3 linked regions of the Homo sapiens genome follow. The protein of the gene in region 2 purifies or fractionates together with the protein of the main gene of each other region. This does not show direct contact. Each region holds a gene or a part of one and is shown on either strand. Other genes may lie near its edges. The genes, in order: DCAF17, RAB40B and ISCA1.

The links.
Region 1: the proteins of RAB40B (region 2) and DCAF17 purify together in Homo sapiens (affinity purification with mass spectrometry; 3 studies listed by BioGRID and IntAct, with this or other methods). This does not show direct contact.
Region 3: the proteins of RAB40B (region 2) and ISCA1 purify together in Homo sapiens (affinity purification with mass spectrometry; 3 studies listed by BioGRID and IntAct, with this or other methods). This does not show direct contact.

What each region holds. Positions count from the first base shown.
Region 1 is NC_000002.12:171,427,560-171,438,002, reverse strand, and holds the start of DCAF17 (DDB1- and CUL4-associated factor 17), read right to left. Parts: upstream 3,778-10,443; 5' UTR 3,426-3,777; coding exon 3,300-3,425; exon of another isoform or gene 3,231-3,299; intron 3,228-3,230; exon of another isoform or gene 3,006-3,227; intron 2,921-3,005; coding exon 2,817-2,920; intron 1-2,816. Other genes in the region: METTL8 (tRNA N(3)-cytidine methyltransferase METTL8, mitochondrial isoform 2 precursor), read left to right, coding at 3,322-3,329. UniProt on the Homo sapiens protein: May function as a substrate receptor for CUL4-DDB1 E3 ubiquitin-protein ligase complex.
Region 2 is NC_000017.11:82,694,751-82,704,255, reverse strand, and holds the start of RAB40B (ras-related protein Rab-40B), read left to right. Parts: upstream 1-5,557; 5' UTR 5,558-5,659; coding exon 5,660-5,801; intron 5,802-7,402; exon of another isoform or gene 7,403-7,867; intron 7,868-9,505. UniProt on the Homo sapiens protein: RAB40B small GTPase acts as substrate-recognition components of the ECS(RAB40B) E3 ubiquitin ligase complex which mediates the ubiquitination of target proteins.
Region 3 is NC_000009.12:86,279,537-86,289,445, reverse strand, and holds the start of ISCA1 (iron-sulfur cluster assembly 1 homolog, mitochondrial precursor), read left to right. Parts: upstream 1-6,907; 5' UTR 6,908-6,987; coding exon 6,988-7,068; intron 7,069-7,364; exon of another isoform or gene 7,365-7,477; intron 7,478-7,992; exon of another isoform or gene 7,993-9,909. UniProt on the Homo sapiens protein: Involved in the maturation of mitochondrial 4Fe-4S proteins functioning late in the iron-sulfur cluster assembly pathway. Probably involved in the binding of an intermediate of Fe/S cluster assembly.

The sequences.
Region 1 (10,443 bases), on a different chromosome or scaffold from region 2:
ATAGCAGTAAGTGCATATGCAGAAAAGGAGAAAGACTTCAAATCGTAATCTAAGTTTCTACCTTAGGAAACTAGTAAAAGAAGAGCAAATTAAATCCAAAGTAAGCAAAGAAATAACAAAAATTAGCTCAGAAAGTAGTAAAATTGAAAACCAAAAATCAATAGAGAAAATCAACAAAACCAAAAGCTGTTTTTTTGAAAAGGTCAACAAAATTGATTACTAATATGAGAAATTAAAGAGTGGCTATCACTACCGATCTCATGGACGTTAAAACAATAATAAAGAAATATTATGAATAAGTCTAGGCTCACAAGTTTGGATAACTTAGATGAATTCCTTGAAAGACACCATCTATCAAAATTTACCCAAGGAGAATTAGATAACTTGAATAAGTCTGTATCTATTAAAGAAATGTAATCAATAATGAACAACCTACCAAAACAGAAAGTGCCAAGCCCAGATGCTTTCAATGGTTAATTCCACCAAGCATTTAAAGAAGAAATAACACAGCAGCAGTGATCAAGACAATGTGGTATTGACATAAGGACAGACATACAGATCAGTGGAACAGACTTGAACGTCCGGAAATAAATCCAAAAGTGTCTATGGTCAATTGATTTTTGACAAGGGTGGCAAGGCCTTGCAATGAAGAAAGAAAAGTCTTTCTAATAAATGGTGCTAGGACAAATGTATAGCTGCATGTTAAAAAAAATGGAGTTGGATACCTACCTTATACCCTATACTAAAATTAACTCAAAGTGGATCAACCACCTAAATATGAGCTAAAACTATAAACCCTTTAGAAAAAAACCTAGGAGCAAATCTTAATGACCTCAAATTTTGCAATGGATTCTTAGATATGGCACCAAAAGCATGAGTAATGAAAAAAATTTAGATAAATTGGACTTCATCAAAATTAACCTCTCTGTGGCTGGACGCGGTGGCTCATGCCTGTAATCCCAGCACTTTGGGAGGCCGAGGTGGCCGGATCACCTGAAGCTGGGCGTTCGAGACCAGCCTGACCAACATGGAGAAACCCGGTCTCTACCAAAAATACAAAATTAGCCAGGCGTGGTGGCGCATGCCTGTAGTCCCAGCTACTCGGGAGGCTGAGGCAGGAGAATCACCTGAACCCGGAAGGTGGAGACTGCAGTGAGCCGAGATCACGCCATTGCACTCCAGCCTGGGCAACAAGAGCAAAACTCTGTCTCAAAAAAAAAAAAAAAAATTAACCTCTCTGTTTCAAACAATAACATCAGGAAAGTAAAAAGACAATCTACACAATGGGAGAAAGTATTTGAAATCATATATCTGATAAGGGACTTGTATCTAAAATATGTAAGGATTTTTGTAAAAAAAAAAAAAAAAATTTACAAGTGGGCAAAATATCTAACCAAACATTTCTCCAAAGAATAACATACAAATGGCTAATATGCACAAGAAAAGATGCCTGACATCACTAGTCATCAGGAAAATGGAATCAAAACCACAGTGAGATGCTGTGAGTCACACATCAAGTGTTGACAAGAATGTGGAAAAATCAGAACCCTCATATACTGCTTATGGGAACATAAAATGGTACTACCACTTTAGAAAAGTGTATGGCAGTTCTTCTAACTATTAAACGCAGTTACAGTATAATCTTATGACCTACCAATTCCATTCCTAGGTATAATCTAGGAGAAGTGAAAATAAATGCCCACATAAAAACTTACATGGAAATGTTTATAGCAGCATTATTTATAATAGCTAAAAGGTAGAAACACCAATGTCTAACAACTGATAAACGGATACGTAAAATGTGGTAATTGATACAATGCAATATTATTCAACTTTATAAAGGAATTCTGATGCATGTGACAACATGGATGAACCTTGAAAACACGCAAAGTGAAAAAGCCAGTTACAAAAGACCATATATTATATGATTCCATTTATATGAAAAGTACAGAATAGGTGAATCTACAGACAGAAAACAGACTAGTGGTTGCTTAGGGCTGAGGGTAATGGTGGTACTGAGGTGACTGCTTAAAGGTACATGGTTCTGTTTTGAAGTGATGAAAATGCTCTAAAATTAACTGTGGTAGTGATTACATGTATCTGTGAATGCATTAAATATTATTGAACTGTACACTTTAAATGGGTAAATATATGGTATGTGAATTATATCCTAATAAAGCCTATAAAAAAAGCTCATTTTTTTAAAAATGCAAACTGATGTATGTTTAGAATATGCTTTAAAAGAGGTCATGCAAAAGGAAAAGTGGGTTAGATAAAGCAAATGTGGCAAATCTTGATAGTTTTTGAATCTGGGTAATGAGTATATGGGGATGCATTGTGGCTTTCCTTCCCCCCTCATGTTGGACAGTTGTGGATGAGGCTGACTGTTAAACATTTTGGATCTCTAAATACTAGGCTTTTGTTTGAAAAAATTTCTCTAAAAAAAAAAAAAAAAGGCAAGTACTTCCAAAACACAATCCATCAATTCTCCAAAGCAGCATCTAATTATTTGATTGGCAACTGGATTTCTTGACTGTGGTATAAGTAGACTAAACACTAAACAGTACTCTGAACAATCTGTGGTTTTGCCTGCACTGTAGTTTTGCTTTAAGTTGGTATTTACAAAAATGACACCTGCAACTTTAGATTTAACAAGATTTTAAAATTACATGCATTTTTTACTGCCTAGTCTTATTTCGGACCCATTTTTTTCATTCTATTTCACTAGGCACTAATGTAGGCATGTGGTTCTATACAAATTATAGTTAAGATCAACAGTGAGGTGAATTACAGCAAAATTATCAATAAAAAGTTACCTGCTGACACAGCGCCGATAATTGTCAAAATATATTCTTCCTCTCTCATAGGCTATAGGTGACCTGGAATGAGTTGTCCAGACATTCTTAAATTTAGTACTTTCCTAAAAGACATAAAGAATTTCCGTTCAGGAAAGAACTCTTAGGCTTTAAGTTAGATTTTAAATTTTCAAAGCAACATAATGTCACCTATATTATTTTAAAACTTTTTGCATCCTTCCTCCACTCTGCCCTCATGTTTTGGCTTAATGAGGTGACCAACTTTTAGAATAATTGTTTCCAGGTAAGACATAAGAAGCGTAAAACTAAAAGCAGCTGGTGGCCCTATTACCACCTATCCCAGATTCCGGGCTTGTATCCTCCTCCCCATCACATGTGACCCTATAAAGGGAGGCCCCAGCGCGTTAAAACCGCATCCCCGCAGGAGGCTCGGCCGCCGCGCGCCCGCGGCCCTCCGTCCCGCCCCGGCCGGCTGGCGGTCACCTGGCACACCAGCGCCCGCAGGATGCCCAGGTTGGTCCTCTGCACCACGCCTGCGTCGCGCGAGAAGCAGCCCAGCGCCCGGCGACTCAGCCGGCTGCACACGTTGGGCTTCCGGGTCGGGCCCATGGAGGCGCGGGCCGGGCCCTGGGTAGGCTGGGCCGCCGAGTGGCGCGCCCCACACTCCCGTGCTGGGCAGCCGCCGCTGCCTTCGAATTTCGAGGCCCAGACTTTCCCGGCGGGGCCCAGGGAAAGCTGACACGGGGAGGCGGGCAGGGAGCACCCGACGGCGGGGCGAGGGAAAGCAGAGCCGCTTGCACCGCCAGAGCGCGGAGAGAAGGGAAGAAGCACTCCCTTTTCGATCTGCCCCAGGCTCTCTGGCCGCTGACAGTGCGACGCTCCGGTACCGCGCGGCCGGCCGGAGCCGCTCTCTCACCGGGAAATGTAGTTCCTAGTGCCTCGTGAGGCAGCCCGGCTTCTCCCAGGAACTACAATTCCCGTCAGGCGGCGGGGAGCGAGGGCTTGCCCGGCCCTGCCTCTGCCTGCCGCGGCCCCGCCTCCTCCGGCCCGCGGAGGCTGCGCTGTCTTGCGGGCGCGCTTCTCTGTGCTGCGAGTGGCTAGCTGGGCAGAGCCCTGGGGGCGCGGTGCTGCCGCCTCCAGGTCTCCGCCCCGTGTGTGCGCCCTGCACTTAGGGATCCCTCCCTCACTGCCCCGGTACTCACAAGCTTCTCGGCCCCGACCTTCGCCCTGGGAGGTTCTGGCCAGGTGCCGGGAGGGGCGCTGTGTCGAGGGCGATCCCCCCAAAGCAGCGTCCCGTGCTAAAGGTACGCCCCGCGGCTTTCCCTTCAGCCGCATGTTGGCTGAGGGGGACGGTAAACTGTGCTTTTGTATTAGGAAGATGCTGGCTTCCCATTCACTCTTAGTTTCACCCTCCAAACTGGGATTGAGTTACTCTTTCCCGGAGGCTTGTCCTTGGGTGGCCTGCGGGGACACTGACTGGTTTTGCGATAATTGCTTCATTTCATTTCCTCTCGCCTCCATTCTTTTTTCTTTATAGGGAATAAAATATGAAATGCTTACATTCTTATTGGACGGCCTAAGATATTCCTCGTCGATGTCTCTAAGTAAAAGATATACTTTGTTAACTAGCCCTGCCTGTATGTTCAAAGTTCCCAGCACACTAAACTTTCAGCAAGCTTGCACCACATGTGTCCCACCGCCATGCTCTAAGTCCCTTAAGGGTGGGGCCGCTGTATCTCCCACGTGGACTTGGGCATGCTACCTCTTGTTCATAGGTGCTCAAAGAAAGCCAGCGATCGCACCTGACTGGCAGAGCAAAAAGTACAGTACAGCAGGTCCTTGAATCGCATTTTTTCGTTCAGTGTCATTTTGTATAACTTGATGAGAAAAAATAATAATTTCCTACCGGGGCTACTGTTTGTGTGGATCTTGCCCCTTCTCCCCACGTCTGCATGGGTTTTCACCAGGTACCCCAGGGTACTGCCTCCCACATCTCAGTGCAGGCTGGATGAATTGGCCTTGTCTGTGTTTCCTGTCTGAGTGTGAGTGTGAGTGCTCCCTGCGATGGAATGTCGTCGTGTCCAAGGGTTGGTTCCCACCTTGCACCCTGAGCTGAGGGGATAGGCTTCAGCCACCCTCGACCCTGAACTGGAATAATTAGGTAAATAACTATCTTACTTGTTTTTATTAATCTTCCTTAAATGTATGTATAGCTCCCATTTATTTCAATGTTTAATATTAGAAGTGTTTTGGTTTGTATTTAGGAGTTTGGTGATGTTTTTGTGACCAGAAATATGTTATAGGAACTTAACTTTTGTTTATATCAATTGGCCTATGGTAAAAATGGTTTTGTTATATGTCATTTTGCTTACAGTCAGTTTCCAAAAATCTGTTGATGACATTAAGTGAGTACTTACAGTACTGGGTGAGTGTGTTGGGTCACAGTTTAAGTGTTTAGTAAACATTGGCCATATCTCTTTTTAACCCTGCTGAATTTCCTTCAGGGCTCGAGCTTTTGCTGATTTTTCATGACTTATTTACAGCATACGGTAGAGTGCTTTGTATATTTTTAGAGAGTGCTACAATAGTTAATTTGGTAATTCATGAATGCAGCTGTCACTGAGAAAACTGGAACCCAGAAAAGATAACTGGGTTTTCTTTGGCTTAAATGAAATTCAAATCATTTCTGAATTGAATTCATCAACTCTCTCATTTCTCTTTCCTCTTTGCCCCCACTTGTTTGTCTTCTTTCTTGTGGCCTTTATTTCACCACCAAGTCGTCACCAAGGGAGAGTCATCCTGGATGCCTTGCTGTTCCTCACCCACAACCAAGTCCTTTAGACTCTTATCCATCTCATCTTCATTTCACCTAAGTAATTTAGGGCCTCACCATTTTTTATCACATTATTAAGTAGTCTCTTAATTTCTGCCTTACTTGTGACACAGGATTTTTTTTTTTTGACGTTGCTTTGCCACTGGAGACCTCCGCAGCTGGAGACCTACCCAGGCCTTGCTCGGGCTGGGCTTGCCACAGGAGGTGCCCTGCACAACTGGCCCACTGGGCCACTCCTGGCTTGCACGCAGGTGTGGATCCTGTGGCCACCTGACTGTGGGCTCAGCCCCTGGCAGGAGAGGGTGTCTGAGCTGGTGAGTGCAGAGTTGTGTGGTATCCAGCTGGTTGCTCCAAGTGCCGGCACAGGAGCTGGCTCCGTGCACCGCTTGCGGCTGGACCAGGCATGTCACAAGTGACTCCCACAGTGGGCTCTGGAGTCCAGACTAGGGGAAGGTGGTGGTAACCAAATGGGTCAGGCAACCCAGAAGCCCCAGAGGTGGGTGTTACAGCATGCTAACAGCTCTTTTAGATCTGCCCTCTGCAGCCTGACGAACAGGGGCATGTTAACAGCCCTATCAGTCCTGTTACCCCACTCCCGCCCATGGCCCTGGGGCTGGCCTGGCCCCCCGCCCTGCTTCTTGTTGCATAGGGTGGCTACCAGGCGCTGCTGGTGGGGCAGAGAGCTACCGTGTTACTCTCTTCTTCCTACCCATGTTTGGTGGCATCCTGAGCTCTTGTCCTGTGTCCAAGAATGAGATTACACTAACAATCGGAGGGTGAGGAGGACAGAGAAGAGTTTTATTGAGCAACAAAACAGCTCTTGATGCAGGATTTTTGCTCTTAGCTCAGCTAGGTCTGAGTTTTTGTCTCACAATCAGTAAGAATTAGGTGTGTGGACCCCGGAGAGTGAGTGGAGTAGAATTTATTTAGTGAAAGGAAAGCTCCCAGTAAAGAAAGGGGTCCTGAAAGCAGGTTGCTGGTTGCCCCCTTTACAGTTGAATACCTGGGCTTAAGGTGCAAATTTCTGGAGGCTCCACCCCATCCTTCCAGTGTGCTCGTGGGCCCTTAGTCTGAGCTACTCCATATTGGTTATTTCCCTTACTGCACATGTGTTAGGGAATGGAATTTTCTATTGTGGGCATGTTTAGGCAAGCCCCCTGTGCAAATTCCCTTATGTGCACAAAACATCTGGTGTAAGCACTTTTGGGGCACGTCGTAGGTTCTTCAGGGACGCTTCCCTTACTGTCTGCCTAAAGCAAGCTGGCTAACTCCTTTCATTCTCAGCCAAGAGGGGACGCAAGGGTGGTCCCCCACCCAAAGTAGTTTGGCCTCTCTTCTGGCATGGCTGGGTCTGGGGCTTTTATGGGCTCAGAATGGGGAAGTGCATGCTGATTGGTTTGTGAGTATGCAAAATAGGCTAAAACAAAGGCACCACTCAAAGGTGGGCACAACAGTGTGAAAAAACAAATTAGAGAAGGGTGGGTATATGTAAAATAGGTGAAGGGTGGGGATCAATCAGAGGAAAGTGCACCAAATGGGAAGAGAGGTTCTCGATCTGGTCCATAGATTTATCCAGGACATGTAGCTAGGCTTTAAGCTGTCTTCAGCTTGAAGGTCAGGTTTCACTGGGGACCCACCCCCATCTGCCTAGGATTTGTCTGCCTCCTGCTGCTATCACTTGGGTACTTTTAATTCCAGCCCTCCTCCATACTGCTGCCAGAGTGATTTTCCTAAAGCACAAGCTGTCACTTGCCTGTTGCATTCTTTCAGCAGCTCCGAACACCCATAGCAGAATTTCTTATTTATTTATTTATTTTTATTATACTGTAAGTTCTGGGGTACATGTGTAGAACGTGCAGTTTTGTTATATAGGTATACATGTGCCATCGTGATTTGCTGCACCCATCAACCCGTCACCTACATTAAGTATTTCTCCTAATGCTATCCCTCCCCTAGCCCCTAGACAGGCTCCCTTTTTTTTTTGTTTTTTGTTTTTGAGATGGAGTCTTGCTCTGTTGTCCAGGCTGGAGTGCGGTGGGGCTATCTCGGCTCACTGCAGCCTCCACCTCCCAGGTTCAAGTGATTCTCCTGCCTCAGCCTCCCCAGTTGCTGGCATTACAGGCGCACACCACCATCCCTGGCTAATTTTAATATTTTTAGTAGAGACGGGGTTTCACCATGTTGGCCAGGCTGGTTGTGAACTCCTGACCTCAGATGATCCGCCCACTTTGGCCTCCCAAAGTGCTGGGATTATAGGCATGAGCTACCGTTCCTGGCCCATAGCAGAATTCCTTTTTTTTTTTTCTTTTTGAGACGGAGTTTTTTTGCTCTTGTTGCCCAGGCTGGAGTGCAATGGTGTGATCTCGGCTCACTGCAACCTCTGCTTCCCGGGTTCAAGTGATTCTCCTGTCTTAGCCTCCCGAGTAGCTGGGATTACAGGCACATGCCACCACACCCAGCTAATTTTTGTATTTTTAGTAGAGATGGGGTTTCATCATATTGGTCAGGCTGGTCTCAAACTCCTGACCTCAGGTGATCTGCCTGCGTCTGCCTCCCAAACTGCTGGGATTACAGGCGTGAGCCACCACGCCTGGCTGAGCAGTATTTCTTATACCCAAATAAGATACTCAGGATCCTCCATTGTTAACTTAAAACCTTTTTAGTATGTCACATATATGCAAAGATAAAATTAGGTATAAACTCCTCATCTTGTCTCTTTCTTGTTTTTTGTCTTTTTAATTTTTTTATGTGTGTGTTGTATCTTTTATACACCGATAACACCCGAACATTTACAAGTTAAATGAAACAAAGCTATAAAACCAATAAATTCAAATGATTGTGAGCAATGAGACTTTAGTTGGACCTAAAAAGCTCTAATCATGAATGTCCTCTGTGGCGTACCTTCCTTACAGAAAGGTCTGTCCATATTGCCCTTGTGTTGAGAGATTACTTGATGCCTTCACCTCTTTTCTTTATATAAATCACCACAAAACCTTCATTTGTTCAGTATGTCATGGCTTCATTTGTCCTTTACTTGACAAACAACATCATTTACATACAGTAGTCCCCATTTCATTCTCATTAACATGTATCAATGACAAACAGCACCACTTGTTTAGCAATACACTCCTAAACACACGTGTGAATTCAAATCTTGTGACAGCACTCAATTAAAAAGTGCTCATTCAGATGATCCAGAGTGTCCTTTTGTTAATATTCTTTTTTTTTTTTGAAAGATTTTTATCAAATTGAAAATGAAAGGTTTCTCCTACAGAAATCTCATAGCCTTGAAGATATGTGTACAAAATCCCTAGGGGTTCACATAAGGTACCTTATAGTACAAAATCTGAATCTCTTTGGGTAGAATACCAGGCACTTCATTATCTTCCCATGTTTTCATTATCTTGCCCACATTTTCAGCCTCATCTCTTTGGCCATCCCTCATGTTTGCTTTTGTGGTTCTGACATGTTTGCTGACTTTCTCAAGCCAATGTGCCTTTATATTTGAGATTTTCTTTATCTGAAGCTTCCTTTCCTCTCCTCTTATCAGTTGATCTCAAGACTCATCCCAGGTATCACAGCTCCACTGAGACCCTTCCCCTAACTCCTCCAGCTTGGTTAGTAGCCTTTTCTGTGCTTCCATGTTACTGTGTATACTGTTGTGGCACTATACTAGAATTGTCATTTGTCTGTCTTCTCAACTAACCTGGGCAGAAACTGAGTAGTAATATAATTCTCCCTGCTTTACACTACCTAAAATGTGGTTAATGCATATGTATGTTGAATAAATGAATGGGCTATAAAAAACAATATGTTTGTATAGAATCTATTATCAACAGCTAAGTACTTTTTTTTTTTTTAACTTTATTTGCTTGAGAAGAAATCTCAAAGGCTGGTGCTGAACTCCTGGGCTCAAGCGATCATCCCGCCTCAGCCTCCTGAGTAGCTGGCATGTATAGTGGGATTACAGGCATATACCACAATACTTGGCAATAGCAGCTACTTTTAGCTTAGATGCAGATTTAGTCTCCACTTATTCCTTAAATCAGTAGGAAGTCACAATATTAATAACTTTCAAAAAAACTTAAATCCTTAAGACTTCTACCTATGAAGTAGATATTTTCCATTTGTTGAAGGTAAAATGGCATAAATAGATACAGTTTTATGATTGGAAAATGATTTCTCTTAGTTTTGGGCATAGAACAAATATTAGTTCTTCTTTTTTTCTATTCTTTGTCTGTGTTATGTTTACAGAATACTTAACCATCCTAGCCATGATATTTTAAAGACAAGAAAGAAGAAATATTAATTCAAAAGTTAATAAAATGCTTTTTGTTCATATACTTTGTTTAAAGAAACATAGTATAACTGAATAAATGTATAAAATACTCAGGTTATTAAACTTGAACATTTATTCAGAGACAAATTTTAACTAAGCTATAGGAAGTCATTTGTTCAACATGTTTTTGTTTTTCATCCATAATGTGCAGGGGAAAGTTTTGGCATAGGGTATAGCAGTAAACAGGATAGACAGGGTCCCTACAGGTGGGAGGAGATAGACAATAAATAAATAGATGAAAAAATAAGATTTCTAGGTAGCAATAAGTGCTGTGAAGAAAATAAAACAGGGTGATGTGCTGGAGGGTGGTTGAACACCCTGCTTTAGCCAGAGTGGTCAGGGAAGGCCGTTCTAAAGAGAACACATGTAAGCTGAGCCCTGAATGATGAGGAGGAGCTGATCTGCAACAGTCCAGAGTAGTAGTCCAGGCAAAGGGATGCTTGAGTTCAGGATTC
Region 2 (9,505 bases):
CAAAACGGGGGCCTGGTTTTTTCAGGTGCTGGAGTGGCATGGAGTATTCCAGAAACACATCGTCTGGTGTCCTCAGCAAAACAGCTGAGAAGAGCAGACGTGGGCTGTGCCCTCACATGGGGCAGGAGCAGAACACAACAGGGCCATGAGCTCAGCGGTGCCAGGAGGCGCAGCCAGTGTGAGTAGGGCACGTGGGCTCCGCCGGACTGCAGTAGAGGTGGGGGTGTGAAGAGGTCAGGTGAGGGTTGGGTAGGGGTCAGGTGGGGGTCGGATAAGAGTGGAGGATTGGGTGAGAGTCAGGTTGGAGGTGCAGGTCGGGTGGGGTCAGGTGAGGGGTGAGGATAGAGTGAGAGGTGGGGGTCAGGTTTGAGGTGGGGGTGTGAAGAGGTCAGGTGAGGGTTGGGTGGGGGTCGAGTGGGGGTTGGGTGAGAGGTGGGGGTCGAGTGAGAGGTGGGAGTTGGGTGGGGGTTGGGTGAGAGGTATGGTGAGAGGTGGGGGTTGAGCGGGGGTCAGGTTTGAGGTGAGGGTCAGGTGGGGGTCAGGTTTGAGGTGGGGTTTGGGGGGAGTCAGGTGAGACAATAAGGTGGGGCCTGAGGGGTCTCAAGGGTGGATGGAGAAGCGCCCCAAGCACTCATCCTGGGTCTCTTATGTCCCAGCCACGGCCAGCAGCCATCCCCGAACCCTCCCTGCTGTGCCCAAAGGGCAGAGCCAGTGCCCGGGGCCCTCACCCGCTGGGAAGACCAGAGACCACAGGGCTGGAAGGCGGACGCAGGCTTCCCCTATGAGCACTCGGAAGGCACGTGCTGTCTCCCGTCGGGGGTGGGCGCTGGTGCAGCCATGTTTGGAGAGATCCCCTCCCACTTAGTTCTCAAAGTGGGGTTCCTGGAGCTGTAGCATCACCACCATCTGTAACCACGTTGCAAATGCAGATTCCTGGGCCCCCAGTGCTGAATGGGAGCCTCTGGGTGTGGCCGCTGTGCCCTGCTCCAGCGTGGGAACCACTGGCGGGGGGCTCTGCTTCTGAAGGGAAGAGGGGACTGTGTGAGGGGCAGCGGTGCAGGGGTCCCGTAGTGCAGGGGAGAGCAGAGAGGGGCCTGGCGACGGCCTCTGCCTCGCCCACCAGCCTCATCCAGCTGTGACCTTGTTGCCTCTGCCCCCGCTGGCCCTCCCGGCTGGAAGCTGCGTCATCTGCTGGGGTTTCAGTTCCGTGCGCTCAGAGGACGCACTAAGATGCAGAGATGCGGGGCCCCAAGCATGATGAGACCCCCAATGTAGTTGATTCACCCGGAGGTGGGCACTGATCCCCACTGGGGAATTCCCTTATATGGGAATTTGGGGATCAGACCTGAGAGTGAGTGAGGCCGTTCTCTCTCCAAGGGGTGAAACCTGGGGGCCATGTTTTCTCCTGTGAGGAGGGAGCCCCTCTGCAGCGACAGGAAGACCAGCGGGCACCGTGGGAGGAACAAAGGCGGCAGGTGGGCCGGCCTCGCCGGCACTGGGTCCCTGGCTCAGCTACTTCCAGGCCGGCCACACCTGGCCCTTCCCACAGCACAGCCGGTCAGCCCTTCCCAGCTCACAGGAGACACTCCCAACCATCCTTCCATAAAATCGACATCGTGCTTAGGCTGGTTCAAGTTGCATTTCCACTGTTTGCACATCACAGACGGAACTATTTTAAAAATGAAAAACATGTTAGCCTTCAAGCTAAATTTGGAAGAAGAAAAAAGAAAAATGCCCCCTCCCTGTGCCCCCTCCGTGGGAAAATGCTGAAATAGATATTATGTGAATTACTGAGGCTGGTTTAACTTCCAGCAACAGAAAATCCATCTGGAGGTGGCACCAGGGAGCTGCTCTGTATCACAGGACAGGAGGCTCGTGGGTGGGCCCACAGTGCCCAGACGCTGAGAGGAGACTTGGAGTCTGCGTTCCTGTTTGCGAACCCCCAGCAGACGCCCTCACATCTCACTGCTGGAGTCTCCTCGTGGGCCACACCTACATGGTCACAGGCAGGAGTTGGCAGGAGCACAGGCATGGCTCAGAGCAGCAGTTTTCACAGTGGGGCCCATGGGCCCCCACAGGTCTCTGAGACCCTTTCATGGTCCTATTGGATTAGAGCCCACCCTACGGACCTCCTCCTAACCTGATTACATCTGCAAAGACCAAAGTATTTCCAACTAAGGTCACAGTCACAGCTTCCAGAGGGTGTGATTTCAATAAATCTTTTTAGGGACTCCATTCAACCCAGACAACCAAAACTTCATACGTGGTGAACCTTTGTCTCCTGTTTTCTCACGACTGCAGACAAGCCTAAACAAGATGACTTTTTTTTTTTTGAGACGGAGTCTCGCTCTCTCACCCCAGCTGGAGTGCAGTGGCACGATCTTGGCTCACTGCAAGCTCCGCCTCCCTGTTTCACGCCATTCTTCTGACTCCCAAATAGCTGGGACTACAGGCGCCTGCCACCACGCCCGGCTAATTTTTTTGTATTTTTAGTAGAGACGGGGTTTCACCGTGTTAGCCAGGATAGTCTCGATCTCCTGAACTCGTGATCCACCCGCCTTGGCCTCCCAAAGTGCTGGGATTACAGGCTTGAGCCACCGCGCCCGGCCTTTTTTTTTTTTTTTTTAAGATAGCATCTCACTCTGTTGCCCAGGCCGGAGTCCAGTGGTGTGACAGCGGCTCACTACAACCTCTGCCTCCTGGGTTCAAGCAATTCTCCTGCCTCAGCCTCCTGAGTAGCTGGGACTACAGGCTAGCGCCACCGTGCTCAGCTAATTTTTGTATTTTTAGTAGAGATGGGGTTTTGCTACGTTAACCAGGCTGGTCTCGAACTCCTGACCTCAAGTGATCCACCCACCTTGGCTTCCCAAAGTGCTGGGATTACAAGCATGAGCCACCACGCCCGGCCTCACCTCCACCTTCTGATGACATTTTACTCGTGGAGAAGCATCAGTAAATGTTCCTTTCATTCCTTCTGCCCACAGAGGCCTAGTCTCCAGAGCAGCCCCAGATCATGGGTGGGTGGATGTTCAAGGAGATTTCAGCGTGGCCACAGGGAGGAATGTTCCGATGATCCGAGATGGACAGGTCTGGAAGCCTGGCTCTGAGTTGGGCAGAAGGTAGGCTAGTGCTGTCCAGACACCTCCACCCTCTGCCTGGACTTTACACATGTACTGAAACTGGGGAGGAGGAAGAGGTATCCCACCACAGGACTGTCCCTCAGGAAACTGGGGGCCCTGGTGGGAGGAAACCTGCTTTGGCTGTAGAAATAAACACCTCTGTTTGGTGAAAGCAATGTTTGGGGCAAGAAGATGGACACCATATCTGAACACAGCCCTCTTCTGACGTGGTTATTTTACCTGGCCCTCCAGGTGGGAGTGGCCATGTTCCAGCTCAGCCAAGGCCAGCTTGGAGGTGACAACTAGGAGGTGGTGAGGACCTTCTGTGGGGCAGGAGAAGAGCAGACAAGGGCTCCCCCATCACCTGTCCTCTGTAGGAAGTGGTCTGGCCACCCCTCTCCATGCCCCACCGTGAACACTGCTGGACTGCTGGGTGTGACCCCGAGGGTGGGCTGGGGGCCTCCTGACCCCTATTGTACAGTGAGTCTGGATGTGTAGGTGGGGAGCGAGCAAAAGAAGGTACCCTTTCCTCACTAGGTAATAGCCATGTGACCCACAGCTGATTGGAACATGGAGACTGAGGGTTAGGGATGGGAAGGAAACTCCCCTGAATTCTTTTTGGCAGAGTGGTGGGGCTGGGGACTAAATGCCATCTTTCTCATAGTTTTCTAGCGTCCACCTTCCATCCTCTTTTCTTCCTCTGACCTTCCTTCTAAAAAAAAACAGTGCTGCAATCCCAGCATTTTGGGAGGCCGAGGTCGATCACTTGAGGTCAGGAGTCAAAGACCAGCCTGGCCAACATGGCAAAATCCCATCTCTACTAAAAATGCAAAAATTAGCTGGGTGTGGTGGCACATGCCTGTAATCCTAGCTACTTGGGAGGCTTGAATCCAGGAGGTGGAAGTTGCAGTGAGCCAAGATTACATCACTGCACTCCAGCCTGGGCAACAGAGCAAGACTCTGTCTCAAAAAAAAAAAAATGTGGCTGCATTAGTAACTAAAGCAACTAATCAACCAATGAATAACAGGTGTTGCAAACTAAATTGGCATTCCAAAGTAAACATTTTCTAGGTCCAAATGAATGCAAATGACAAATATAATAATCTTGACTTCAGTCTCTTTTGTAATTCTTCTTCCGCTCCCTCTTCTGTTCCTCCCCCACAAAAAACTTCTAATGGGGTCTAGAGCAGTTCCCTACACAACGCAGGGTGGAGGGGATGAAGTAGTGGGGGCATTATCCTTCTTCTTGGACGGAGCTCGCCCTTTGCCTGCTGCCTGAATTCTGCACCAAATAAACCAATGTGCACCTGGTGAGACCCTCAGAGCGAAGGGCAGACCTCGGCCTGGCAACCCTTGCTCTCTAGAGCAGAGGAGAAGCCAAAAGGCTGGAGGGTCCCACCCAATGCTCTCCTCCAGCACGCACGCAAACACATGCATGGATGCACAAACAAGCGCACGCACACATAGGAGCGCATGCATAGAAGCAGCACACGCAGACACACACATGCAAAGATGCCTGCAAAGGCACACATGCACACGCACATACATGTGCAGACACCTGCAGAGGCACACATGCACACGCAGACACACAGATGTGCAGACATCTGCAGAGGGACACATGCACACGCACATACATGTGCAGACACCTGCAGAGGGACACATGCACACGCAGACACATAGATGTGCAGACACCTGCAGAGGGACACATGCACACGCAGACACATACATGTGCAGATATCTGCAGAGGCACACATGCACACGCAGACATGCACACACACGAACACATGCACACGTACACAGGCGCATGTGCACACACAGGCATTCAGGCACGCCGCGTAAATGGGGCAACGACGAGGCCCTGGATGAACCGTGGGGAGAGACCGCGAGCCTGGATTCTACGGCGACAGGGACTCCTCCGGCGAGGCGGCCTGCGGGGGCCTTCCGGCCGCGTCCGCCAACTGGACCGACCCCGAGCCCCACCCGGCCAGGCACCCGAGGTCTCCCTGGTGGGCAGGTGGGGAGGCCCCACGCTGGGACCCTGCACCGCCCCTCGCCCCTCCCGACTCGGGGCGTGCAGACCCGACGACCGTGGGAGCGAGTTCGTGGCGCTCACGGGCGCACGCGAGAGTGTAAACACCCGGCCCCACCCCCTGATCGCCCCCACCCCGCCCCGCCATTGGCTGCGGGAGCAGAGTCCCCGCCTCCTGCTTGTTCTGGCTCCGCCCCTGCCCCGTCTCCGGGCCTCCATTGGCTGTGGTGACAGCGACCTTTCAGGAGGGGCGGGTGGGCGACAGCCCGGAGGCGGTGACGAGAGTAAGATGGACGGACAACCAAGCCAGTGAAAGCGCGCAGCTGCCCTAGCAACTGCGGTCCACCAATGGCGGGGCCGGGCGGGGATGCGCGCTGTCAGCGCTGGGCGGCGGGGCGGGGCCGGAGGCGAGCAAGGACTCGGGGCCCGCGCGGCGCCTCTCGGGGCCGGGCCGCCGCCTCTGCGCTCAGCCCCGCAGGCCGGGCATGGGTGGGGGCGCCGGGCCGTCACGATGAGCGCCCTGGGCAGCCCGGTCCGGGCCTACGACTTTCTGCTCAAGTTCCTGCTGGTGGGCGACAGCGACGTGGGCAAGGGCGAGATCCTGGCGAGCCTGCAGGATGGCGCGGCCGAGTCCCCGTACGGCCACCCGGCGGGTGAGCGCGGGCGGAGGGCGTGCCGGGGTGCGGGCGCGGGGCCGGGGAGGGGCGCGGGGCTGGGGAGGGGGTGCGGGTGGGGGTCCGGGTCCGGGGACGCGAGACCGGGCAGGGGTCGGGAAGAGGCCGGGGCGCGTGGCCGGGGAGGGTAGGAGTCCCGGTCCGGGGGCGCGGGGCTGAGGAGGAGCGCGGTTCGCGGGCGGGCCTTTCTCCGCCCGGCCCTGGCCCTCGTGCTGCGGCGTCCCTGTTGCACCCCCAGTTCCACTCGAGGCCCCGCGGCGCAGTCTCCATCCTTCTCCGCAGTCTGCGCGCAGCGGGAGCCCGCGGCTGGGCCGGGCGCTGGGCTCCTCCCGACCTGGGGCCGCTGCTGTGGGGACCCGGGGCGGGGGCTCGAGTCCGCAAGTGCGCGTTCGGCCGCGGGGCAGGAGGGGCGGGAGGGGACGCGAGCTCCGGGGCTCCTGGGGCGGAGCGCGGCGAGCAGGCGCCCAGGTGCTGGGTCTGCGCGTGGGTCGGAGGGGAGGGGAGACCAGGGTCCGGTCCCGAGGCCAGGGGTCCCGCGTGTCCGGGGGAGAGGAAGGAGCACAGGTGACTCGCGTGCGGAAGAGGGGACCCCCCACGACAGCGGCCGGAGAGCGGGTTCCAGGGCGAGGGGAGGCCGGAGCGCCCAGAGCTCCCAGGCAGGCAGCCCGGGGATCCCCCAAGTTTGAGGCTTGAAAGCCGGCGCCCGGCGAGGGGGTGGACGGCTCCGGGGAAAGAAAGGCGGGGGCAGGAACCCAGGAGAAGGGGGAACGCGCAGAGGCGAACACCTCGGCTGGGAGTGAGGAGCAGGCGGGGCCTTCACCCACGCGCATCCCTGGAACAGCTTGGACGAGGCCGACCCTGAGGCTGTGGAAGGAGCCCAGCCTGTGCCCACCTTCCTGCCGCGCCTCGGGGCTGAACCCACGCTTCCAACAGAGACCCGCTCTGAGTCCTGGGCGGAGGAGGGCAGCCGGGCGTGGAGATGGAGTCTTGGTGGGAAGGACCTGTCAGCTCTGGGGCCTGGGAAGGGTCTGGGAAGCCCCAGGTCCAGGGTCCTGCCAGAGACGAACTTAGCGGGAGAGGGTGGGAGGAAGCGGGATCTGAGGCTGCTCGGTAGAGGGTGCAGGCTGTCCCCTAAGGGCAGCTCCAGGCAGGCGGCGTGAGCACCAAGGGAGTGTGGCACGGCTGGAGGGGGTGGCCTGAGACTGTGGAGCGTGGGGTGGGACTCAGGTGCCCGGCCACACCTCAGCTTAGGGGACGGGGTGAGGAATGGGCAGAGTTTGGGGGAGCAGCTGAGATGGGCTTGGGCTCACGACCAGCACCCAGAGGCCTCCTGAAACTGCAGCATGCGGGGGAGTCTCTGGCAGCTGGTGGGTGCAGAGTGTGCTCCGTGGGGCAGGAGGGGAGCCTGCGTCTCTACCTGTCCCCAGGCGCCGCTGCCCCCGCATGTCCTACCCCCCTCCCCGCTCGGTGGCAGGTCTCTAGGACCGTGGTGTCCAGTAGGATGCCATGAGCCACGTGTGGCTGTGGAAGTGTAATTAGAAGGAAAGAAAACAAAAAGCTTCCATTCGTCACATTTCTAGATAGTTCGGATGTCGCTGTGGCAAAGTCCGAGGGCCAGCGCTGCCCTGGAGATTGAGCGCCTGGAGGACAGGGCTGGAGATTGAGCGCCTGGAGGACAGGGCTGGAGATTGAGCGCCTGGAGGACAGGGCTGGAGATTGAGCGCCTGGAGGACAGGGCTGGAGATTGAGCGCCTGGAGGACAGGGCTGGAGATTGAGCGCCTGGAGGACAGGGCTGGAGATTGAGCGCCTGGAGGACAGGGCTGGAGATTGAGCGCCTGGAGGACAGGGCTGGAGATTGAGCGCCTGGAGGACAGGGCTTTGTCTGCACTGTGCCCTCGGGGTCTGGGCTCAGTGAGGGATGAACCCTACCAGAGCTACAGGAATAAAGCACCCAACAACGTGTACGCCCAGACGAATATGGCGCTTTAAGAGCTGTGCGTGTTTTGGGGGAGCAGACGGTTGACAGTGTTGAGTTTGATTGAAGGTGAGTGCCGTGGGGCGTGTGTGAGAAGGGTCACGCACAGAATGTTTGTGAAACTTCCTTCTGGTTGGTTTGAATGGAGGCTCGGGGATGCTTCTGCTGCGTGACTTTTGGTTGCTACATGCCGAACTGAGGACGAACCAAAACAATGGTCCAATGCTTTGTAATAAAGGCTTTCCCTTGACACGGAGGGAGGATTTAGGCTAAAAATACACCTCCCACCGGGCCGGGGGCGGTGGCTCACACCTGTAATCCCGGCTTTGGGAGGCCAAGGCGGGCGGATCACCTGAGGTCAGGGGTTCGAGACCAGCCTGATCAACATGGAGAAACCCTGTCTCTACTATAAATACAAAAATTAGCCGAGCATGGTGTCACATGTCTGTAATCCCAGCTACTCGGGAGGCTGAGGCAGGAGAATTGCTTGAACCCGGGAGGCGGAGGTTGCAGAGATCGCACCATTGTACTCCAGCCTGGGCAACAAGAGCGAAATTCTGTCTTAAAAAAAAAATCCCATCAAGAGCTTTATTGTCTACTTGGCCTGAGCTGCTGTAGAAAAAACTGATATCACGGGTGTACCCTTGCAGGTTTTTGATTTACCAAATATTTGTTTTAGAGTTAAGAAAAGATATTCTGAAAAATAGTAAGAAGTTGAGATCATTATGTTTTGTTTTTTATTTTTTCAGAGACAGGGTCTTCTCTGCCGCCCAGGCTGGAGTGCAGTGGTGTGATTGCAGATCACTGCAGCCTTGACCCTCCTGGGTTCAAGCCATCCTCCTTTTTTGGCCTCCTCAAATGCTGAGATTATAGGCCTGAGCCACAGCACCTGGCCATGTTTTTTTTTTTTTTTAATGACATGTTTCGCTGAGAAACACTATAGGTGCTTGTTATTGAAAGGTGAGGGCAGCCGGGCGCAGTGGCTCACAGCTGTAATCCCAGCACTTGGGGAGGCCAAGGTGGGCGGGTCATGAGGTCAGGAGTTTGAGACCAGCCTGGTCAACATGGTGAAACCCTATCTCTACTAAAAATACAAAAATTAGCTGGGCGTGGTGCCGCGTGCCTGTAATCCCAGCTACTTGGGAGGCTGAGGCAGGAGAATCGCTGGAACCCAGGAGGTGGAGGGTGAAGTGAGCTGAGATCACACCATTGCACTCCAGCCCAGCGACAGAGTGAGATTTTGTCTCGAAAAAAAAAAAAGAAAGAAAGAAAGAAAGAAAGATGAGGGCGTTCGTAACTCCACACTCCATTTCCCTCCACCCAATTCCTCCTGAGTTTTGTAGCCCAGGCTGTTATTTTTATATTGTCCAGGTTTATAGCCCTTGCTTCTGTATTGTGGCTGTAGTGCCCGCAATGATTTAGTATCAATTCAACATTTAAATACAGTCAGTGCTCACCAAAGTCCTTTTACCATTTATGTCTCTGTTCATTGTGCTGTCCCTCTTAATCACCTAGATTTCATTATCAGTCGTTTTTTCAGAAGGACTCGAGTATTTCCTGAGTGTTTTTTTGTGTCTGAGAATGTCTGCCCATGGTCTTTATCTTTGAACAATGTAGAGATATCTTGGCTGGGTATAATACTCTTAGATTTATTTTCTTCCCCAACACTTTGCAGCTGTCATTCCACCATCCCCTGGCTCACATGTG
Region 3 (9,909 bases), on a different chromosome or scaffold from region 2:
ATTACTTATTTGACATAATACAGTTATTGAATAATTCATACTTTCCCCCATTGGTTTGAAATGCAAACTTCATTATGTATTACTTTGTTACATATAATCACTTAAGAATTTCTCAGGTCTCTTCAGTTTTTTCGTTGATCTATTTGTTCAGACTCCAGAACAAAATTTAGTAACTATTCTGTGGTATTGGTTTTAATCAGTAATCCTCATTTGTGTCCTCCACCTGTAAATATAATAAATTTCCCTTTTTCCTTTTATATCAATAAGTTATTGCTACAATGATTACCATCCACAGCTTCGTATCTGCAGAGTAATGATCTAAGATATTTATTTCTGGCCAGATAATTCTTTGCAATCTATTATGTTTGGCTGCAAATGAAGATACTGAATTATACAAGGCAGAACCTTAAGTTCGTCTGGTGCTCTGTACCAACATGGAAATAGTGAATATGTAAATGTATTAAAATGAGATCACTCTAGGAACCTGTCTGCATTCAGAAAGAATTTTGACTAAGCTTATATTTAATTAATCATGTGCATATATACTTTTCAATATCAAGTCTTATTACTTGATTCAAAACAAGTGACCAATTCTAGTATGAAGTTTTTGTGACTACTTAATAAGAAGTAATTTTATGGCTTTTGTCATAAAGCGAGGCTTGTTTCATTTATATTGGGTTTTGTTTCTTCCCCTCCTCTAGGTAGCCTTTCCAGTAAATATATGACTCAGGGAAAAGCCTCAGCGAAGAGGACCCAGCAGGAATCATGAGGGAAGGAAAATGCAGCACTCTAAATGGCCACTCAGGCGTTCCTATTCACTCGGAAAATTAGGTTCATTTCACAGGACACAGCAGTGTAGATCAGGCTTCAACTTAACATTTAAGGGAAATGTCAGATTTTTTTTTAATTTAATGAAATTGTTAATGAGGAAAAATTTTTAATATAGTCTTATCTACCACACATCCCCATAGATTTAAGGATTTTAATAGAAAGACATGATGTATGTATTTAAGCCACGTTAAAAGAAAAAATATAACTATGGACCGGTATTCAGTGAATACAGTTTCATGGTTTTTAATTCTTTCAAAGCACATTAAAAATGGTGTGCTGATAAACCCCAAGTAAATTAACCCTTTTTCCGTATAAATCCATTTTTTGTTTTGAAGAGGGGAAATTATATTTATTGTTGTTTACTGAATCCTGGTGTGAAAGCATATCAGATATGTATGAACTGCTACTGCTGTACTTCCGATTTACGGACATCATTTTATTGCTATTTGTAGACGTGATAACATGAACATGAGTACCTATTTATGTGGGCCTTCAGTGGATGGGCAGTGCCACTCAGGTCTCTGGGGTTTCCCTCTCTAATTTTAAGTAAATTGACATATAACTACTATGCTTATAAAAATGAAGTAAGGAAAACAAGTAGTCCTGTTTGCCACTAAAAACATTTTCAAAGGAAAAATAAAATGAAAGTACTTTTTACTTTTTATGATACTCAGAAATTAGGATGAAGAACTTTTAAAATTGCTGAAGATCAAAGAGGTTATCTCTGCCAGTCACAAGTGTGGCTGGTGTCATTCTGGGTCTGACTGGAGCCCTCCTGGACTGTTTCTTTAATTTCAAAAGCCCTGCAGACATAGTACCTGGTCAGAACTATGCCTCGGTTTATTTATCATTTTGAAATAAAATCAGAATTTCAACCTGTAATTTTATCTACATTATTTTCTAGTGAAAGATTCCTAAATTTCCTGGGGAAAAAAAAAAAAGATCAAGGAGTGAGAACATTGGGAATGATAGTAAGAGGCGTTTAACAAAAAAGAAGAAAGGACAAATATACTCCCCTAAAATAGTGTACACAGACTTCCCTTTGACTTGTGCCCTTGCAATCATTGGTGTGTGTTAACATCCAGTGTGTTCCAGGCTCTGGGAACGTATAAATTTGTTATTATAAAAGGCACAGATGGGGGTGGGGGGGCGGGGAATTTGTAGGCAGGGAGGCTCAGGGGGTGCTTGCTGGACGAACATTCTGGATGTTTGAGGACTCAGAAGACGCACATCCCTGTGCCCTTCTTTTTTAAACAATTATTTGAAGACAGTCTAGCTAAAGACGAATCATATCAAAATTAAAGACTTCAGAATTTGGAGGCCATGGTAGAAAGAATTAGTGATCATTCCCTACTCATTTTGAACGCAAACTAATGAATGACGCAACCTGGGCTGATGCTGCTCTACGTGACCGTCCTCAGCTGCCCCCTTCTGGTTTCTTCTCTCTAACTCATGCATGAAAGTCGACTAGGCTTACAATGCTTGTCACACTTTTCTTTGAAAAGCCCATTGATGCTGTTCTGTTGTTTTCTAGCATTATAGCAGAAGACAAGTCTAAGACCAGGCTGATTTTTGTTCTCTTGTAGGTTTTGTTTTTCTGCCTGGGTGCTTCTGTTTTTTAATTTTATCCCTGTAATTCAGAAAGAAAATTACCTCAATATAGAAATACATCTATCCAGTGACTTTTCATGCTAGGAAAACTTCAAGTTTAATCTCTACATGACTGGCTTAATTTTTACTGTCATTCTGGTGCTTCCTGTTTCTAATATGGATTTTCTCATTGCACTTCTAATTTTCTGGAATTTGCCTCACTGACCTTCCTTTACCTCTCATTTCTTTAGTTTACTTATATTCTCTTCCTTTTCATAGGAGCCATATTTTCTTGTATCCCTTTAAGGATGTTAAAAGTTTCCTACATTTTAATCTGATCCTTAAGGTAGCTTCTGCCCAAAGTACTGGGTCTTTTGTTTGATTTTCAATACCTCACACTGGATCCATGGGACAATGAGCAGTATTTGCCAGCAGGCCTGGATAATGGATTGCCCTTGATTCTTTACCTGGATGTGGTCGCAGCCCCATCTTGCTGCCCCAGCTGGGATGCCAAAACGTCTGCTCTTTGCTAAGTCCATTGGCCTAGCTATCTTTCAAGTGCAGCCGGCTTATCTATCTTAAGCTGTACAAATGCCCCATTACCAAGGTTCTCCTTGCCACCTTCTCTCAGGAACAAAAATATGAAATCTCTTTTGTATAGCAGTGGTCCAGTGGCCCCAATCTATGATGTTTAAAACTCTTGCTTGGCTGGGTGCAGTGGCTCACCCCTGTAATCCCAGCACTTTGGGAGGCCGAGGCGGGCAGATCGCTTGAGGTCAGGAGTTCGAGACCAGCCTGGCCAACATGGCAAAACCCCGTCTCTACTAAAAATACAAAAATTAGCTGGGCTTGGTAATGGGCATCTGTAATCCCAGCTACTCAGAAGGCTGAGGCAGGAGAATCACTTGAACCCAGGAGACGGAGGTTGCAATGAGCCAAGATTGCACCACTGCACTCCAGCCTCGGCGACAGAGCAAGACTCCATCTCAAACAACAACAACAACAACAAAACTCTTGCTCAATGTGTGCAGGATCAGCAGTGTGCAAAAATGTTTTTAAATGTTCTTAGATAACTTCAGTGTATTTTTCTTCTTGAAATATGTTTGACAAATGGCTTCTACTTTTAAATCTTTCCTGAGTGGAAAAGATCCTGGATAAATACATCAATAGAGTTCAGTGTTACAAGCAAAAATATACACACACACGTTGAAAACAGAATTTATCAAACCCCTGTAAAACTGTAAAGCCCTCAGTAGTTTTTTCTTTGGAAGCAGGCATATTTGGACAGCAGCAGTCAAGAACTACATAGACTTTCCACTGAATGGAACTCTAGACTTAGACAAGGTCTGGCCCACCTCGTTTTCCAGCTGTGTGGCAGTCCCCTAATCTCAGGCAGTTCAGTTTCCATTCCTATAAAATGGAAACCATTCTTGGCTTTCCACACAGTTGTGATAATCAAGTGAGGTCTTACCAGGAAAACACTTCTTTAAATGTCTAGAACTATGAAACTAATGCCTGAAGTGCGGGGTGAAACAGTTCCCTATTGCAAGTTCTGTCACATATTAGTGGAAATCTAAAAGTGGTTACAGCTTGTAACTCTTTTGACACTTCCCATACCCACCTCATTTTGACACCACTGGACAGCTGCTGCTCTGAGATAAGCTCACATACTGCTTAAATAATCGTGAAAATTATTTATTCTAACATAACATTATTTCAGGGACTTGTGCCAGTTTCAAGTGATATTAGAAACTAACAAGTAGATTATGTGACTTAATGCTTATGTGCAAAACAACTAACCAAGTTAAAAACTGAATAGTGGGGTTTTCTTTTTTGTTTGTTTTTGTTAAATAGTGGGTATTAAATAGAGGAAAGAAGTCTGTTAAACATACACAGGATCCTGAATCAGAAAATTGAGGACTAGATGTTTTCAATAGTGTCTAATGCTCTCTACTAAAATCCTTGAGTTTCAGCATCTGTAAAACTGCCATGCCAGTGCTTCTGCCCTACTCAGTTCAAAGTTGTGAGGCTAGTATGAGATAATATAATATGCTCATGGAGTTTTCTGAATCTTGTAAAGTGCTGCACAACTGTGTAATGTGTCAATAACTGAAAAAAAAATGACAGCATCTTTTATTTTTATTAAATTTTAATTTTAGGGCTGTTTTAGGTTCACAGCAAAGTTAAGCAGAAAAACAGAACTGCATATATCCCTTGTTTCCACATGTGCCTCACTGTCACTCTGCACCACAGTGGTACACTTGTTACAATCTTAAACCTACATGGACACATCATTAGCTCTCAGTGCCCATAGTTTACCTTAGGGTTCACTCTTGGTGGTGTACATTGTGTGGGTTTTGACAAACGCATAATGATATCTATCCACCATTATAGTAGTTTCACAATACATGGCATCTTTAAATACTCATTAACAATTACCATTTGAGTGAGGCTGTGTGCCTTGCACCCCTCTAAGGGCTTCTCCTGTATTAACTCATTTAATCTTCACAATATCTGTAGGAGGGAGGATATGAGATCCCAAACCCCCAGGTAGTCAAAGATGAAGGCCAAGAAACAAACCCACCACACCACCACCTCTCTATGTCCCTCCCTCCCTCCCTTCCTCCCTCCCATCACTTTTTCAGTTTCTTTCTTTCGAGATGCAGTCTCGCTCTGTCACCCAGGCTGGGGTGCAGTGGCGCAATCTTGGCTCACTGCAACCTCCGCCTCCTGGGTAGCTGGGATTACAGGTGCCCGCAAACACGCCCGGCTAATTTTTGTATTTTTAGTAGAGACGGGGTTTCACCATGTTGGCCAGGCTGGTCTAGAACTCCTTATCTCAAGTAATCTGCCGGCCTCCGGCCTCCCAAAGTGCTGGGATTACACGTGTGAGCCACTGCGCCCGGCCCCCAGTTTCTTTTATTTTCTTTCTTTCTCTCTCTTTCTTTCTTCTTTCTATCTGTCTGTCTGTCTCTCTCTTCCTATCTTCCGTTCTTTCTTTTTTTTTTTGAGACAGAGTCTCACTCCGTTGCCCAGGCTGGGAGTGCAGTGGCACGATCTCAGCTCACTGCAACCTCCGCCTCCCAGGTTCAAGCGATTCTCCTGCCTCAGCCTCCTGAGTAGCTAGGATAACAGGTGTGCACCACCACACCCGGCTAATTTTTGTATTTTTAGCAGAGATGGGGTCTCACCATGTTGGCCAACCTGGTCTCGAACTCCTGACCTCAGGTGATCTCCCCGCCTCGGCCTCCCAAAGTGCTGGGATTACAGGCGTGAGCCACGCGCCCGGCCCCCAGTTTATGTGCAGATAAGGCTTAGGGGAAAAAAAAAAGCGTCCTCTTATTGTCAATGCGATTGCATTTCTGTAGCAGGAAGTCAGAACTACTTGATGGAATTTTGAACTATCCTTTCAGAAACTGCAGGAGATCGAAGATAAACTTGGCTTTAAAAAATGTTTCACTGATTAGTTCTTCCCACATTCAAACACTGCGAATCTGTCCTCCCCAGGACTGCTTCATAGACCCCTCCTGCCCTTTTTCCTTCACTTCTAGCACTTCAATGACAAATGCCACCTGTCTTGATGTCCTCCTCTCTTCATCTGCTAGCCCTGTCCTGCCAGTATCTCATTCTTCCCTGGCCCCTCTTTACCTGGCTTCCTGTGTATGCCTGGGTACCGCGCCTGTGCAGTGTCTGGTGCTCAGGAATACTGCATCAAAAGGCAGAATTAAGCCCCTGAGCAGCCAGGACAAGGTCTGACAACACGTTTTAAATCGAGTAATTGTTGCTCGCTATAAATGTGACTATTCACACTGCTGCCCAGTCACATTTTCAAGTAGGGTTGGTTCCCAGTTCAGCACCAGAATGAAAACTGCATTAGTCACCACCCTTCAGCATCCCCAGCAGTACAGCACGCTGGGGAGAAGGGTGGAGGGTGGCGATTATACAACTCTGCGGTAACGCCATGCTCTTAAGAACAGCCTAATTGGACCACAAAAGAAGAATGAAAATGGATGTAGATGTCTGGGCATCGGAACGATCACTCTGCATTTGAGAGCATAAGCTCCCAGTGCAGGGTTGACTTATGCGTCCTTAAGTGTCACCGCCTATGATGGTGTTTGTCACGGTGAGTATTAAAGCAGGGGGTGACGCTGCACCTTGCCCCGGGGGCAGGTGGTGAAGCTACGTGCATCCGGAGTCAGCAGGTCTGAGGTCATTCCTCGCCCCCTCCCGCCCGCTCCCCGACGTCACGCCGACTCCGTCCTCGGCGGTGAAGACATTCCTCCCGGGCCCTGCGCCCTGCAGCGTGGTAACCCCACTGCCGGAGACCGTGCGCAACCCAGCTGCTAGACCCCCGGCGTTGAGCGGCAAAACCCCGCCCCGAGCGGCTTGCCCCGCCCCCGGCTCGTCACTCATGCAACTCACCCAATGGTGGCGGCGGGGGGCGGGGCTAGGACTGAGGGCGCCGTGCGCCGAAGCTTGTGGCGTCAATGCGCCCGCCGTGTCCATGGAGAGAAGCTGAGGCGGCCGACCTTCGGCCCGAGGCACCGGGGCGCCGGGACGGCGAAGATGTCGGCTTCCTTAGTCCGGGCAACTGTCCGGGCTGTGAGCAAGAGGAAGCTGCAGCCCACCCGGGCAGCCCTCACCCTGGTGAGTGCTCGCGGCGCGCGGCGGGGCCCGTGACATTGCTCGTGTCCGCCCCGTGCAAGGGGAGGTCACGGCGGCCGGGAGTGGGGCCGCAGGGACGCGGACACGTCAGACCTCGGCGTCGCTCCGACCCGCCGCACAGCCTCGCCGCCTCCTTCGCCTCCGGCCCCTCTTTGCAACGATAAACAAGTCCCGGGCGGGGCTGCTCTCTTGGCCCCGGAAACTACGTTTCCCGTCAGGCCGCGCGGCAACCGCGTGCGGGCCGGAGGGGATCCCGGGGGTGGGCGTCCCCGGGGGCCGATCGCCTCCACACTCCTGCCGGCCTGCGCTGTTCGGCCGTTCCGGTTAAGCAGAGGCTGAACGTGCCCGGTGGCGGGGGTTCCCGGTGGTGGCCCGGAGTCCTAGCCTGGAGGTGCGTGGGGTGGGGAGGGACCAGGCTGTCCGAAGGACCGCTGTGTCGGGGCGACAGCGTTCGCAGAGGGCGAGCACAGCGACAACAAAGCCCCCGGCTCCTGCCGAGGTCACGGCCGCGGCGCGCAAAGCGTTACTTGCCGGTGTCCTGGGTGATTGAGGCCTTTGAAACTCCCTCTGTGCCTCTAGCAAGCCTAGGCTCTTAGGACAAAAGATGATTTCCCAGAGTGAGTTTACAGCCTTTTCTGGGTGAAAGGTCAAACACTCAGAGGGCACCAGAGTGCAACCATTGATTACTTAGAGAATTCACTGAGCTCAGTGTTCCGGCCGCACCGTTCAGTTTTTTAGTGGAAGGAAAATCCACATAACATAAAATTAGTCCTTTTAAAGGGTACAATTCAGTGCCATTTAAGACATTCACAGTGTCGTGCAACCATCACCTCTATCTAGTTCCAAAATACTTTCACCCCAAAAGAAAAATTTATGATCACGTTCCTACATACACTCCCCTTTTAGTGAAGGAGACGACTTTATGCAACCATTCGCTTAGAGACTGGGAAAAAAAACGATTTAAATTGACTCATCGATTCTGTTGCATCTAATGCCAAAAGGGCCTATTACCAGAAAATAAGTTTGTAGCAAAGTAGAAGAAAATTGTGATCAGGTGAGAGAATTTATTTTTATAATCAATTTTTTAGGCCTTTGATATTACCCTGATTATATATGGTACTACTAGTGTACTGATTATGTATCATTCTATATTACCTCTTTTCTGTAGGAGCAAGCTTATTTTCATACACCGTGGGATGTAGAATTAAACAAGGTTTTAAGAACTAGAGGGCACAACTCATTCTTTGTGTCTCTTTCAATCTCAGTAAGAATTATTCAGAATTCTTCCACTGGTAATGGTAGATCCAGGAAGAGCCAGAAGGTTCAGGAACAGTTTTTGCCTTTTCTTTTTTGCTTTTTAGCAACCCTATTAACTGGGTTTTTTGTTTTTTGTTTTTTGTTTGTTTGTTTGTTTTTGTTTGTTTTGTTTTTGGAGACAGGGTCTCACTCTATCTCCCAGGCTGTAGTTCAGTGGTGCAATCATGGCACACTGCAGCGTCAACCTCCTGGGCCCAAGCGATCCTCCCACCTCAGGCTCCCAAGTCGCTGGGACCACCGGTGTGCACCGTCATGCATGCACCTAGGGTCTCCCTGGGTTGCCCAGGCTGGTCTCGAACTCCTGGGCTCAAGCAGTCCACTGCCTCAGGCTCCCAGTGTGCAGGGATTACAGGTGTGAGCCACCATGCCTGGTCCCTGATGTCTTTCTCCATCACCATTTGACATGTTACCTCTTCCTTCAGAATTTCTTTTTTTTTTTTTTTTTTTTGAGACAGGGTTTCGCTGGGTTGCCCAGGCTGGAGTGCAGTGGCGTGATCTCAGCTCACTGCAGCCTCTGCCTACTGAGTTCAAGCAACTCTCTGCCTCAGCCTCCTGAGTAGCTGGGATTACAGACGCCCACCACCATGCCCAGCTTATTTATTTATTTATTTTTGTATTTTTAGTAGAGATGGGGTTTCACCATCTTCACCAGGCTGGTCTTGGACTCCTGACCTCGTGATCCACTCGTCTCAGCCTCCCAAAGTGCTGGGATCACAGGCATGAGCCACCGTGCCTTGCCCTTCCTTCAGAATTTCTATGTCAGTCCCTTTCTCTCCATTCCTAGTCATTCAGCAGACATTTATCAAGATCTGCTGTGTTTCAAGACAAATGAATGAGTTATACAGTTCCCAGCCTACGGGGCACAGTCGCAGGCCAAGCCTTTGCCACCTCTTACTAGGAGTAATAGCACTGCACATTCTCAGGCTTGGTCTCTCTCCACACTTGCTCCCCTCTGCTTCAGTACATGTTATCATAGCAGTTCTCAAGGTATCCATGTTGCCTGACTCAGCTGTTTTGATTAACTTGCAGGAGTCTACTGTCTGTACTCTGTTGTCCTACTTAAGTATGGCTGACTTTAGAAGCTTCTCAGAAGCTGTACCAGAGAGAAGGCACATCAATGCTGTTTTCCACACAGCCTGTGTTGGTGGGCTTGCAGTCATTTTAGTTCCAGCATTCGTGCCCTAGTCAGGACACTATGGCATGTATTGCTCTTTGTGCTTAGTTTATCATCAGCATGTATCGTCAAGTGCAAAAGTAGTGATGCCGTCAAAGGCCTAATGAATGGAGACAGATAAGAGAGCAAACAAAAGTATACGTAATTCAGTAAAACTGATTGGAAGAGGTAAATGTTACTTGGGTCTAATAAGTAGAGACAGATAAGAGCAAACACAAGTATACCTAATTCAGTAAAACTGATTGGAAGGGATAAATGTTACCTGGATATATAAATTTTGATGTTAGGAATTTGACATGTTGCAACATTTGAAAAGTGCTATATGTGTGGAG